2 separate regions of the Homo sapiens genome follow, and region 2 is linked to region 1. Evidence: fine-mapped expression QTL. Tissue or cell type: whole blood. Region 1 holds a variant in brackets; the other region holds the start of a gene. All regions are shown on one strand. Distances are from middle to middle.

What was found. PIP is the estimated chance that this variant, and not a neighbour inherited with it, causes the effect.
Region 2: B3GNT2 starts here. The variant in region 1 is fine-mapped to the expression of B3GNT2 in whole blood (INTERVAL, PIP 0.97).

What each region holds. Positions count from the first base shown.
Region 1 is chr2:62,308,642-62,316,252 of GRCh38, forward strand. No RefSeq gene overlaps it. Among named protein-coding and RNA genes, the nearest start is that of MIR5192, 110 kb to the left of the region's middle. RefSeq lists enhancers at 1,257-1,626, 5,063-5,112, 5,173-5,272. The variant C/T (reference allele first, on the strand shown) is at 3,540.
Region 2 is chr2:62,193,545-62,198,920 of GRCh38, forward strand. B3GNT2 (UDP-GlcNAc:betaGal beta-1,3-N-acetylglucosaminyltransferase 2) reads left to right here and starts at 2,571. Exons shown (of 2, transcript NM_006577.6): 1 at 2,571-2,811. LOC124906013 (a long non-coding RNA gene) reads right to left here and starts at 2,469. Exons shown (of 2, transcript XR_007086336.1): 1 at 1,595-2,469; 2 at 445-1,363. RefSeq lists enhancers at 1,056-1,663, 2,270-2,876, 3,857-3,966 and silencers at 1,957-2,186, 2,477-2,916, 3,097-3,446.

The sequences.
Region 1 (7,611 bases):
CCATTATAAACCAAGGAGACAAACTTATTTATTAGCTGCTGTGAGTCCTACTCTGTGCCTTTCCTGCTCACAAAATCTCTGTGAGGCAGAGAGCAATCCCCATTCCACAGAAGCAGGAATTGAGATAGAGGGGTCACGAATGAACCTCCCGGGTTCAAGCAATTCTCCTGCCTTGGCCTCCCGAGCAGCTGAGATTACAGGCATGCACCACAATGCCTGGCTAATTTTTTGTATTTTTAGTGGAGATGGGGTTTCACCATGTTGGCCAGGCTGGTCTCGAACTCCTGATCTCAAGTGATCTGCCCAACTTGGCCTCCCCAAAGTGCTGGGATTACAGGCGTGAGCCACTGCACCCAGCCGAGGTTCATTCTTACACTTAATAAAAATACACATATCAGACAGTCTGCTTGATGATTTATATTTTTTGTAGCTAAGGTCTTGTCAGATCTGAGTAGAGCATCATGTTTTTCAATAATCACAAGAGCTAGCTTTTATTAAGGGCTTACTGTGTCCAGTGCTGTTCTAAGCATGTCACATACTGTATTAATTCACTTAATCCTCACAACTGCCCTCTGAGGTGGCAACTATTATTATCCCCATTTTGCAGATGAGGAAACAGAGGCCCAGGGAGGTCAGATAACATGCCCATATAGCTAGAGAGTGGCAGAGCTGGGGGGAACCCTGTCGGTCTGGCTCCAGAGCCCATTGTATAGCAGCCACCTCTGCCCACCCTGGCCTGGCTAGGCCTCAATGCCAGAAACACACCATTCTCTATCTCCTGGAGGGTAACAGAGCTGCCATTATCCCAGGAGGCAAGGCTGTCCCAAGAGCATAGACCAGTAGTAGGGTTGGTTGCCAGCTTCTAGGTGTCGCCTCAAGGCTCCTTGCTGCTTCAATTATTATTCTAATAGTTCTGAGCTAGGCATGAGGTAATCTGAGCTTTTAGACCTTGGCTATTTCACTGAGGTTTGCTGTGAGGCTTCAGTTTTGTCATCTAAAACAGCACTGTCCTTCTAGAGTTGCTGTGAGGACAGGAGAGGAGTCTGCCAAGCACTTAGCAGGGGCCTGGAGGGCAGAAAGCATTCAGTGATGGGGAGGAGAGGAAAGCTCACAGAGCCTCGGTCCACGTGGCTCAGCTCTGTGCTGGAGCTGCGATGCGGTCAAAAGACCATGAAACAAAACGTGATTTCAAAATAACTCAAGTCTTTCACGTGTGTTTCTCACACCGATAAGTGAACGTAGTCCTTCGTTAGACTGCACTCGATTCTCACGGTGGCCATGTGAGAGGCACAGTTCTTCTTGCACGTCCCCCTCCGTCTTCTCCCACACATGGCTCTCACTTGCTGCAGGGGCTCCCGGTCTGGCTCTCAGTTTCCGTTTCCTCTGATTTTTATCTCACAAATGGCTGGCAGGGCGGGGCTCCTTCCTTGGAGGGTGGGCTCCAGGAGGAACTGAGGAGAGTGTAACCAGGACCCTCATTAGGGGCCATGGGGGTGGGAAAGGTTGGGAACTCGCCAGTCATTTTTATCCCATCACATGAATTATTATTTTTGGCAGAGGAGAAGGTGTCTGTGTTAGTACCACAAACTGTGGCTTAAAATGACAGAAATCTATTCTCTTACAATTCTGGAGGTTAGAAGTCAGAAATCAAGGTGGTGGCAGGGCCATGCTCTCTCTAGAGTCTCTAGGAGAGGGGCCTTCTGAAAAAAGAAAAACTTCAGCTGAATTACATTTAAGAGTTTAATTGAGTTTAATTAAATGAACAATTTGTGAATCGGACAGCCCCCAAATCAAGCGTATTCACAGAGACTCCGGCGCAGCTACATGGTGGAAGAAGATTTATAGACAAAGGGAAATGATGTACAGAAATTGGAAGTGAGGTACAGAATGACCGGATTGGTTACAGCTCAGTGTTTGCCTTATTTGAACGTAGTTTGAACACTCAGCAGAGTATGAATGGTTGAAGTATAGCCTCTGGGATTGGCCAAGACTTAGTTATTGTTACAGGCGCATACTCCTAAATTAGGTTTTCAATTTTGTCTGACTATTAAGCTAGGTTACAGTTCATCCACAAGGACTCAAATATAGAAGTACAGAGTCCTTCTCAGGACATATATAGTTTGCTTTAACACTTCCTTGCCTCTTCTAGCTTCTTATCGTTCCTGGCATTCCTTGGCGTTTCTTGCCTTGTAGACCCATCATATTCATTTCTACCTCCATCTTTATGAGGTCTTTTCCCTGTGTATTTGTGTCCAAACTTTCCTCTTCTTATAGGGACACCAGTCATTGGATTAGGGACCACTCTAGTTGAGTATGACTTTATCCTAACTTGATTGCATCTGCAAAGACTATTCCCAAATAAGGCCACATTCACAGGTTTGGGGGCCAGCATATATCCTTTGGGGGAACATAATTCAACCCAGCCTGTAACAATGTCATATCATTCAGATTGATTCTGAGCTAGCCCATTCCCAGTCTAACATCTCCAAACCTGGTTCCCCTAGACCCTTGAGCTTGTCTGCGACTCTTGTCCAAATGAAGCTGTGAGGCGAGCTGCCCTGCTGACCAATGGCAGGGCCTCCCTTCTGGCTCCAGGCTCTGCACTGAAGTGCAATGGGCCAACCAGGTACTTGCCCAATGCCATGGGTGAAGCCAAGGAGGGCATAGCCAGTAGGAAATATATTCTACAGAAGTGATCACTTTTCAGTTTAAAAAAAAAAAAAAAAAAGGCCGGGCGCGGTGGCTCACGCCTGTAATCCCAGAACTTTGGGAGGCCGAGGCGGGTGGATCACGAGGTCAGGAGATCGAGACCATCCTGGCTAATACGGTGAAACCCCGTCTCTACTTAAAAAAAAAAAAAAAATTAGCCGGGCGTGGTGGCGGGCGTCTGTAGTCCCAGCTACTTGGGAGGCTGAGGCAGCACAATGGCGTGAACCCGAGAGGCGGAGCTTGCAGTGAGCGGAGACCGCACCACTGCACTCCAGACTGGGAGACAGAGCGAGACTCCGTCTCAAAAAAAAAAAAAAAAGTAATTAATTGATATGTTTTAAAGGTATATGTCAACATAATGTTTTATTAAGATTATGAGTGAAATTTTTTCTTCTATGAAGAATCAATGTGAAGTTATGGTTAAAATATCAATCGCTATATCATATTAGGAGATAAAAGAGGAACTATTCAATAACTGAAGCTAGGAAAACATCCATATGGAGAAAAATGAAACTGGGCAATGTCAAAGCATGTCTTCATTGTTTATCTTGGTAGAAAAGATAGAGGACTGTCTTTCTTGGACTAAAGAAGGGAAGAGGCCAGGCACGGTGGCTCACACCTGTAATTCTAACATTCTTGGAGGCCAAGGTAGAGGGATCACTTGAGGCCAGGATTTTGAGACTAGTCTGGGCAACAAAGCAGACCCTGTCTCTATAAAAAAATGTTTTAAATTGTCTGGGTGTGGTGGCATGTGCCTGTAGTCCCAGCTACTCAGGAGACTGAGGTAGGAGGATTGCTTGAGCCCAGGAGTTCCAGGCTGCAGTGAGCTA[C/T]GATTGAGCCACTGCACTGAAGCCTGAGTAAGAGAACAAGACCTGTCGCTAAAAAATATTTAAAAAGAGGGGAAGAATTCTTAAATTAGGTACAAAAAAGTACCAACCAAAAAGAGAACAGATTGATACATTTTATTATTATTATTGACTATTATTGACTATATTAACTATATTATAAAATTGAATATTCACATTCTCTATGACCCAATGTGTGCATCAAGATATATCTATTAGAATACCCTTAGGAGCTCTGTAGATATCAGCAAAAACAAACAAAATCAAACCAGAAACATCCCAAATGTCCACTGACAGGTAAATGAATAAGCAAATTGAAATATTCACACTGTAGAATATTACACAATTAAAGCAATGAACTATAACTACATGCTACACTGTTCTTACAATATAATTATATATAGACTACCTATAACATAATACCTTTCTATCAAGTGTTCTTCATTTATTTATTTTTTGAGACAGGGTCTAACTCTGTCACCCAGGCTGGAGTGAAGTGGTACAACCTCGGCTCACTGCAACCTCCACTTCCCAGGCTCAAGTGATCCTCCCGCCTCAGCCTTCTGAGCAGCTGGGACAGCAGGCACATGCCACCATGCCCAGCTAATTTTTGTATTTTTTTGTAAAGATGGGTTCTTGCCATGTTGCCCAGGCTAGTCTCTAACTCCTGGGCTCAAGCGATCCTCCCACCTTGGCCCCCAAAAGTGCTGGGATTATAGGTGTGAGCCTCTGTGGCTGGCCCTCTAACAAGTTTAAAAACAACTAAAACTAAACATTTATTAAGCATTACGTTAATCAAATATAATTTAACATTAATTAAACATTAATTAAGGATAACACTAATTTAACTATTTTTTAAAGGAAGAAAATTATTAGGACAAAATGGAAGTAAAGGGGTAAAGGGAAGCACACAGGTAAATGTAAGTTATTGTTGATATTTTAGGCCAGGTGCAGTGGCTCATGCCTGTAATCCCAGCATTTGGGAGGCCAAGGCTGGTAGATCACTTGAGCCCAGGAGTTTGAGACCAGCCTGGGCAACACAGGGAGACCTCGTCTCTACAAAAATAATAAAAATTTAAAAAATTAGTTGAGCTTGGTGCACCTGTTACAGGTGCACCTATAGTCCCAGCTATAGCTACTTGAGGTGGGAGGATCACCTGAACCTGAAGAGGTCAAGGTTGCAGTGAGCCGTGATTGTGCCACTCCCCTTGGTACCAGTGAAACCCTGTCTCAAAAAAAAAAAAATTAGATCTTGGGTTGACAGATGTGTTCACAGGTGTTCAGATACATATAATTTTGAAATAAATTAATAAAATAAAAGAAAGCCATGCTAGGAAAAAAGGAAATATCAATGGTCAAGTTGCTAGGCTGTATGCCATGAAGAGCAGTTAGTCAAAGAGAATCACCTTTTCAGATGTGCCCTATCGCCCACCAGCCAGTAGTGGACAGCTCCCTGTCATGGGATAACCTGGCTGTGCTTCTCCTGGAACTTGGGCCTTACCATCTGGGAGTCCCCATTTAGTTGAGAAGCTGCAGAGGGAGTTTATTTCTGTGGCCTTGTAATGGGGCACACCTTCTGTTTGGGGGGGAAGTTCCCTCCTGTTCCAGGGAGATCATGAAGCAGCAGCTGCGTTGGCAAGGGCAGAGAAGATGTCCTAGTGATGGCTATTAAGGGGTCCCTCCCTTGCAGAAAAGGATTAGTGTCCAGCTAGCAGAGAAACACTTGCCAGGTACTTAATAGGTTCTATTTGATGGTAGTAGAAGCTCTCCCCAACACACATGCCCACTCAGCCAGGGAGAAGGTAGCAGGAAGGAAGGAGGCCCCCTGAGTATTGTGACCACAGAGATAGCCTGCCCCTGCAACCACACCCACACACTGAGGTTTCACCAGGGTGTAGGGGAGTGGTGGTTAAAAGACAAGAGAAGAGTCAGATACTATTATCTCCAAGTTTTGCTCCAAAATATGAGCTCTGAAAGTGAACGTGAGGACCCATTTCCATCTGTCCCCTACCCCATTCTACTCCCAGGTATAAGTTGCTTACCAAGATGAATAATGAGGGTTCTTTACAGCTTGTAAAATACTTTTTTAAAACATCATCACATTTGGTCCTCCTTAAAAAAAACCCAGTGGGGGTGGTTATCGTGCTTACCTTTATTTTTTAGATGAAAAAAAAAACTGAGGCTTGGAGAGGATCAGCGACTTGTCTAAGGTGATAGACTTGGAGGCAGAGATGAGAGGAAGGCTTCTGACTCCCTCTTATGCCATGTTCCCAGAGGGAGTGCCCAAAAACATGCTGTCTCAGCAGGAAGCAGCCACTACCCAAAAGCAGAATGGGAGGAAAGGAACAGGGGCCACATTTGGTCCTTACTAGCCAGTGCAGAAATGATGGTACTGGAAGGAGATATTTAGAGAGTGGCCCTTCTGTCACCTGATCCAAAGGCCAGGAATTGAAGGAGCTATGTCCTAGAGCAGCAGAGTTCTGTTAATTTGTTGTCTGTGCCTTCTGTATAATATCACTTTGTGCCCCTGGATATGCTGTTTTCTCCAGTGAGTCTAGGGAAGGAACTCTGAGGGATCATTTCACTGTCACTAAAAAACAAAACAAAACAAAACAAAAAAAAGTTTAAAAGGGATGCTTCAAAGTTTGATGCTCTAGTTGTTTTTAATCAAGCAGGGATTGCTCATTGTAAAAGTAATTTGGGATAATATAATCAAATAAAAAGTAGAAAAAAGAGTCACACCACCCAGGGATAATCACTTGTCCATCACCAACTTATCCCTGGCAGGGAATCTGCAGACAACATAGCACTGTTACCTCCCTTTGAGGCCTCAAATAATTTCTAACAGAAAGAGGCTGTTTTTGCTTAGGATGCAGATGAATAAAGAACAGAACTCCTCAGGCCGGGTGCAGTGGCTCACGCCTGTAATCCCAGCACTTTGGGAGGCCGAGGCAGGTGGATCACAAGGTCAGGAGATCGAGACCATCCCGGCTAACACGGTGAAACCCCGTCTCTACTAAAAATATAAAAAATTAGCTGGGCATGGTGGCGGGCGCCTGTAGTCCAAGCTACTTGGGAGGCTGAGGCAGGAGAATGGCATGAACCCGGGAGGCGGAGCTTGCAGTGAGCTGAGATCGTGCCACTGCACTCCAGCCTGGGTGACAGAGCAAGACTCCACCTCAAAAAAAAAAAAAAAAAAAAAAAAAGAACAGAACTCCCATCCAAACGGTGAGAAAAAGACGTATAATCTACAAATCATACCTTTTCTTGAACTCGTCAGAGAGCTGAGGTCGCAAGGCAATGAAATGAACTGAATTCCAAAGAGTAACTATCCCCCGTGAGAAGAAATAGGGAACAGGGGCTATTTTACCTTTGCCCAGGACTGGCTACATCATTTACAGATTTATAGGACCCAGTGAAAAATATGGGGAACTTCTGAGCACAGGGCACTGTGTGACTGCACAGCTTGGATACCATGAGGGGGGTCCTGTCTTTGGCAGAGAACAGAAGGAAGTGGCCACCACCGGTGTTGGTAAAAAGGAAGGAACTCAAATGTCTTGGATTCCCGAAGACTAAGTATGGATTAGCATTCAGTTTATTTATTAATTTATTTTTGAGACAGAGTCTTGCTCTGTCACCCAGGCTGGAATGCAGTGGTGCAATCTTGGCTCACTGCAACCTCCTCCTCCCAGGTTCTAGTCATTCTCATGCCTCAGCCTCCCAAGTAGCTGGGATTACAGGCCTGCACCACCATGCCTGGCTAATTTTTGTATTTTTAGTAGAAACAGGGTTTCACCATGTTGGCCAGGCTGGTCTCAAGACTCCTGACCTCAAGTGATCTGCCTGCCTCAGCCTCCCAAGGTGCTGGGATTACAGGCGTGAGACACTGCACCCGGCGCGTATCAGTTTAGAATGACTGGGAGCCCCAGAGAGAAGGGGAGTTTGTCACTACAAGCCCTTTTCCATGGGCCTCCACTAGGTGCTCATGAGAAAAAATGGGGATAGGGCAAGAGCCCCATGCTTGATGGTGCAGGCATTCAAGATGATGCAGGCAACC
Region 2 (5,376 bases), 120 kb before region 1:
CAGCCTGCCAAGTAGCTGGGACTACAGGTGTCCACCACCACACCTGGCTAATTTTTTTGTATTTTTTGTAGAGACGGGGTTTTACCATGTTGGCCAGGGTGGTCTTGAACTCCTGACCTCAAGTGATCCGCCCACCTTGGCCTCCCAAGGTACTGGGATTACAGGCATGAGCCACCGTGCCTGGCCTAAGAATACCCTTATTTTTAAATTTCATGGCCTGGGCAGCCTTGGGCAGCGAGGGACACAAGCTTAATTTCCTAGTTGGTTGCCAGCTGACATTGTAGCAGCTCCTTTACTATAAACTCCTTGGCTGGCCGTTCTTGCAAGCATGTCTGTGGCTACAGGGAGTGCATTTAAAGGGAAGACACATATGCATGGAAACAATATACCAATCTGATGGCACAGAAAATCTTCCTTAGATGTCCGCTTTGTCTCAACACTGCATTTAAATATCAGACAGCAGCCTAGAGATATCTTTATTTAAACCCAGGAACATGGACTCAATATTATTTTGATACAGAATGAAGACATAGACTTCATTTATTAATTTATACTCCCTAGAGTTCTTTTTTTTTTTTTGAGACAGAGTCTCACTCTGTCACCCAGGCTGGAGTACAGTGGCACGATTTCGGCTTACTGCAACCTCCGCCTCCCTGAGTTCGGCGATTGTCCTGCCTCAGCCTCCCAAGTGGCTGGGATTACAGGTACATGTCACCATTAATTTTTGTATTTTTAGTAGAAACAGGGTTTCACCATGTTGGCCAGACAGGTCTCGAACTCCTGACCTTGTGATCCACCCGCCTCGGCCTCCCAAAGTGCTGGGATTACAGGCGTGAGCCACCGCGCCCGGCCTCTACTTCCTAGAGTTCTTAGAGAATTTCTAGCTTCTGTTTCTTTAAACATGTTTTATTAGCTTTCTAAATTATGAAAGTAAATACAACTGGAAAAATACAAAATCCAAAGTCAAGGGAGTAAAAAAATGTAACTCCCTTGTTTCCCCTCCCCGCGTAACCGTGGTTAACAGTCGGTGTGCACCCTTACAGATGTTTTTTCTATGAAAATACAAACATTCGACTTGTTTCTTGGACTTTACCTCGCAGTCCGAGGAGAATCATGTGAACAGCATGAAAGCAGCATGGTCCGAAGACTGCAAACCATAACATTTCCATATCTACTGACTCTGAATTCCTGTTTCTAGAGGACCCGCACCCACGTGGCTCTGTGCATCCGCAGCAACTTGGTCTTTCTTCCTTTGCTGAGTTTGGTTAAGGGAAAGGGCCGATTATTGAGTGGGCTCAGTTCACAGGTGCCTGAAATTCCTACTTAGCAATGTTCCTTTCCAGCTGATTCCGCCTCCGAGAGCCTTAGGAAAAAATGCTAACAGTTAGGAGCGAAGCGTCCTTAATTGCTCAGTCCAATTATCTAGATGGGTCCAGGTTCGGTTTCGATTCAGAGATAAGGACCAGGGGGCGGGGACGCTTCCAGGTGAGCCCCTGGTTAGGCTTGCCTCCCCGCGGAGCGCACGCGGGTCTCGCTGGCTGGACTGGGCCTTTCAAGACCAGGTAACTTCTCCATCCGGTATCGCCAGGCTTACCTGGGGGCCTCAGAATTGTGTCAGCTGCGTCTCTGAGTCACCTTGGAACCCCTCGAAGGAGCGCGGGGCTAGGAGGGCGCATCGGTGGGCCCGGGGACCCCGCTGCTAGGTGTGGTTGGCGCCAAGGCCGCCTCTGGCCGGCGGAGCCCTGCAGTGTCCGGAGGGTGCGGTCAGAGTCCGGCCCTTTAGGCCTTGCCTCGGTATCCGCCTTGCCCCTTGGGCCGCGGCACGGGTTCGGGCCGAGCGCCCGGCATCTTGCGTTTCTGGCTTCCTGAGACGGGCGTGGGACCTCGAGGAAACCACTCTGCATGACCCCACGAAGAGAACTAAGGACCACCCCCCACCCTTCCTGTCCTGGACGGCTTCATAAGCCAGAGGATCCAGTGGCAGTACCAAGCAGGGCACCACTCTGGGTCGTGAGCACCTAAGAGGTGGAGCAAAGGTCAGACCCCAGGGTGGCCCAGGCCTCCCTCCCCCGCCTCCCCGGCGGGGCCATTCCTCACCCGCCCCAGCACTGGAGGGGGCGGCCGGGGTCGGTCTAGTTCCGGTTACAAACTGGACAGAAAAGGCCACTGGAGTCTCGCTAGGCGATGCGCCTAGTCCCCTAGCCTCAGACGAACCGCAAGAGGGGCCACCCACAACTGGAGGGGCGGAGGCTGGAGCTGAGTTTCATTAGTGTTTTTGGAGCTGCCAGGCATTTCCAGGGGGGTCGCCTTCCTAGAGGCCCCCTTTCCCCAGCTTAACCCTCGGCTTTGCAGGAGGGTGCGTGGGGGCTGGAGGGTCCCTGGAAGCCGCAGGGAGCGCGGGCCCGGGTGGGTCCTGGTACCGGGTGGGGAGAGCGGAACCCTCCCAAAACTTGGGGCGCGGGGCGGGGCCGTCGGGCGGTGACGTGAGGGGCGGGGCCGGGCCCCATTGGCGGGCGGGCAGGGGAGGGGCGGGGCCGGGCGCCCGCGGCGGCTGCTGCGCCTGGAACCGGAGCCTGGAGTGAGGCGCAGCGGCAGCGGCAGCAGCGGCAACAAGTGCCGGAGGCTAGCAGAGCCAAGCCGGAGCAGTCCCTGCCGCCGACACCGCCGGGCCGCCCGTCCGGGGCGCCGCGCATGGAGCGTGAGCTGCGGCGGTCGCCGGGCTGAGCCGCGCGGAGCGGCCGGGACGTGGATGTGGCCGCGATCTCCCGCCCTTGCCCCCGCCCCGCCGAGCTGGAGCTGCTCCCGGACAAGGTAGGGCCCGGGCGCCGAGCACCCCCGCCGGCTCCCTCCCCGCTGCCCTCTCACCGCCAGGCCCCTCTACCAGTCCCCTTCCGCCTCCCTGCTTCCCGGCCCCACCTTCCGGACACCCTGCTACCCCCGCCCGGTTCCTCGCCGGTTCCGGCTTCGTACCCGCGCCCCGGTGGAGGAAGCCGTCCCTAGGTGGCTCCTGCCGCATTTAAGCCTCCCTTACCTTCCCGCCGTCCCAGCCACCCAACCTCAGCCCAGAGGGAGAGGAGAGGGACACCGCCCGCTGCGGGGCTTTGGAACCTCCCAACCCATTCCGTGCCCACCTCGCCCTGGAGCCCGGGGACCTTCCCCCTCCTCGCTGCACCCCAACTTCCGGGGGATCCGGCGCCGGGGCGATGCGGGCTTTGGCAAGGGGCATCTGGGGCCGGGCCTCCTCATCCGGGGCGCGCGGGCATTTCGGGGAGGGGGGCGCGCGTGATTCCTCGCTCGCACCCCCGCACCCCACCCTCGCACTGCGCCGGCCTCCCGTGCCGCATGGGGAGATCAGGTGTTTTGTGAGCCAAAGAGCCGCCGGCAGCCGCTCCCCACCCCCCACCCCCAACCTCTGCCACTTCTGTCTCCGGCTCCCCCAAAACTGGTTTCTGCCAAACTTAGGGAAAACCTTTCGCTTTGACCTTTTAAAAAAAATATTCCACACTGTTTGCGTTGAATGATTAACCAGGCTGCTAGCCCGAGTCGTGGGGGTGGGGTGGGGCGGGGTGGGGTGGGTGCTGCCAGGCCAGGGAGCGCCTGAAGCCGGACTCTACGAGACACCCCTCGTGGGAAGGTGGGCGTGGGGGGCCCTGCCGGGGCTGCGGGCGCGGGACTGGCGGCTACTCCAGCACGGCAGGCGGACCCTTCTGGAGGCAATAAACCGAGTCACCCGGTTAATTTCCAGGCCACGGTATTTGAAACTCGGGGCTGGGGAGCCGCAGAACTCCCTGTACCCCCATCAAGTAGAGGAGCCGTCGGGAGACTCCCCACAAGTGTCACAGCGTCAAAGCTCATCTTTAAAAATATGTACATTTATAACCTGGGTTGGCGAGGCGGCGCTCTTCTGCCCAAAACGTAGGGGTGGTTAGTTTGTAGAGTGGGCTTAGCTCACAGGTGCCTGAGCTGTATCCCCGTGGCCGCCTCAGCCACCCCAACTTCTCAGAAAGATTGTTTAGAACAATTAAACTATATTCTTTTGCCCTTCTCTTGTTGGAACCCTACCGTAATATCCGATAGCGAAGCCAGTTGGTGAATATAGAATTCTACTTGTTAAAACAAATTCTTCCGGTATAATTATTTGTGCCTCTGGAGGTGGTAAACGAGGTGGCCGACAGGGCCGGGACTGGGAGTGAAAAGGCGGGGACCCTGGCCGAGCCAGTCCCGGGGCTCCGGTGCCGGCTTATAGTCGCACCCATGCGGATCTGACAGCTGACCCGGAGGGAGGACCGGCAGGGCAGGGCAGGGCGGTCACTTCCCATTGTCCTAACTCCTGCTCCTGGTTCTTTTGAGTAGAGGGTGGTTAAGCCTGGAGGAATTTGGGAGAGTTTTACTCGGAGCCCATGCGCTCTTAAACCAGATTAGATTTTAAGAACACAGAAGTGAAGGAGCCCCATAGGGCTGTACTTGAGTAATTTGAGTAATCCTTTTCCTCCCTGCTCAGACTTTACAAATGTGTTTATCATTAGATCTTCTGTTTGAAACTACTTTTTTAGTTCGGAATATTGCTTTTTCTCCCTACAGCAAGGGTTCACTGTTTCTCATTTAGTTTTTGTGCAGGCGGCATTTGTATGATGAAGGCCTAATTCTCTGTGAAACTGACCAGTTCTCACCCTTGCCATTCATTAGACTTGATTCTGCCACATTTAATTCAGTGATCTTGGGCAAGTTATTCTTCACCTGAGCCTCATTTTACACATCTGGTTTTGGGGATGGTGGTGTTTGCTCTGCAAGATTATTTCTGAGGACAAATAGGATGTTTGCCAAACTCCTAGCACTGCACCAGGAGAGCTAAGAAGTGCTTAATAAATGGTGGTCATTGCTGTAATCAATAGAGAAGTTCCTCCTGGCATCGACTTCCCCTTACCAAAAACAGTAACCCTGTGGTAGCCTTTTAGATTTCCCTGTCTGAGACTGAAATCAGCCACATTTGGCAGATGCACATCAGAAGGTTCTTAAAACCTAAGTAGTATTTTGAGGAAAATAAGCATGATTTGCTTGTTGTTCAAAAATTATGAATTTTTTTCTGGGCTTCTGGTGAAGGGCTGAATATATGAAGGTTTGTAGTTTTGAAAATTTTCTTGTTTTAAAGAAAAGTCATGTTTTAGGTTTCTGATAAACTAAAGTTGTGCTAAAAATAGGAAAGTAGAACTGATAATTCATAGTTGATTTTGACTATACTGTTCAGATATGTGGTTTTTTTTAAAAAAAATAGTTGCATTAGTGAGGCATCGTTGGTATGTTCTGAAGAGAAATATGCAGGGCTTTTTCAGCTGATGCAGGGATAAAAGAAAAGGTGAATCTTCTGTTTCTCAAACT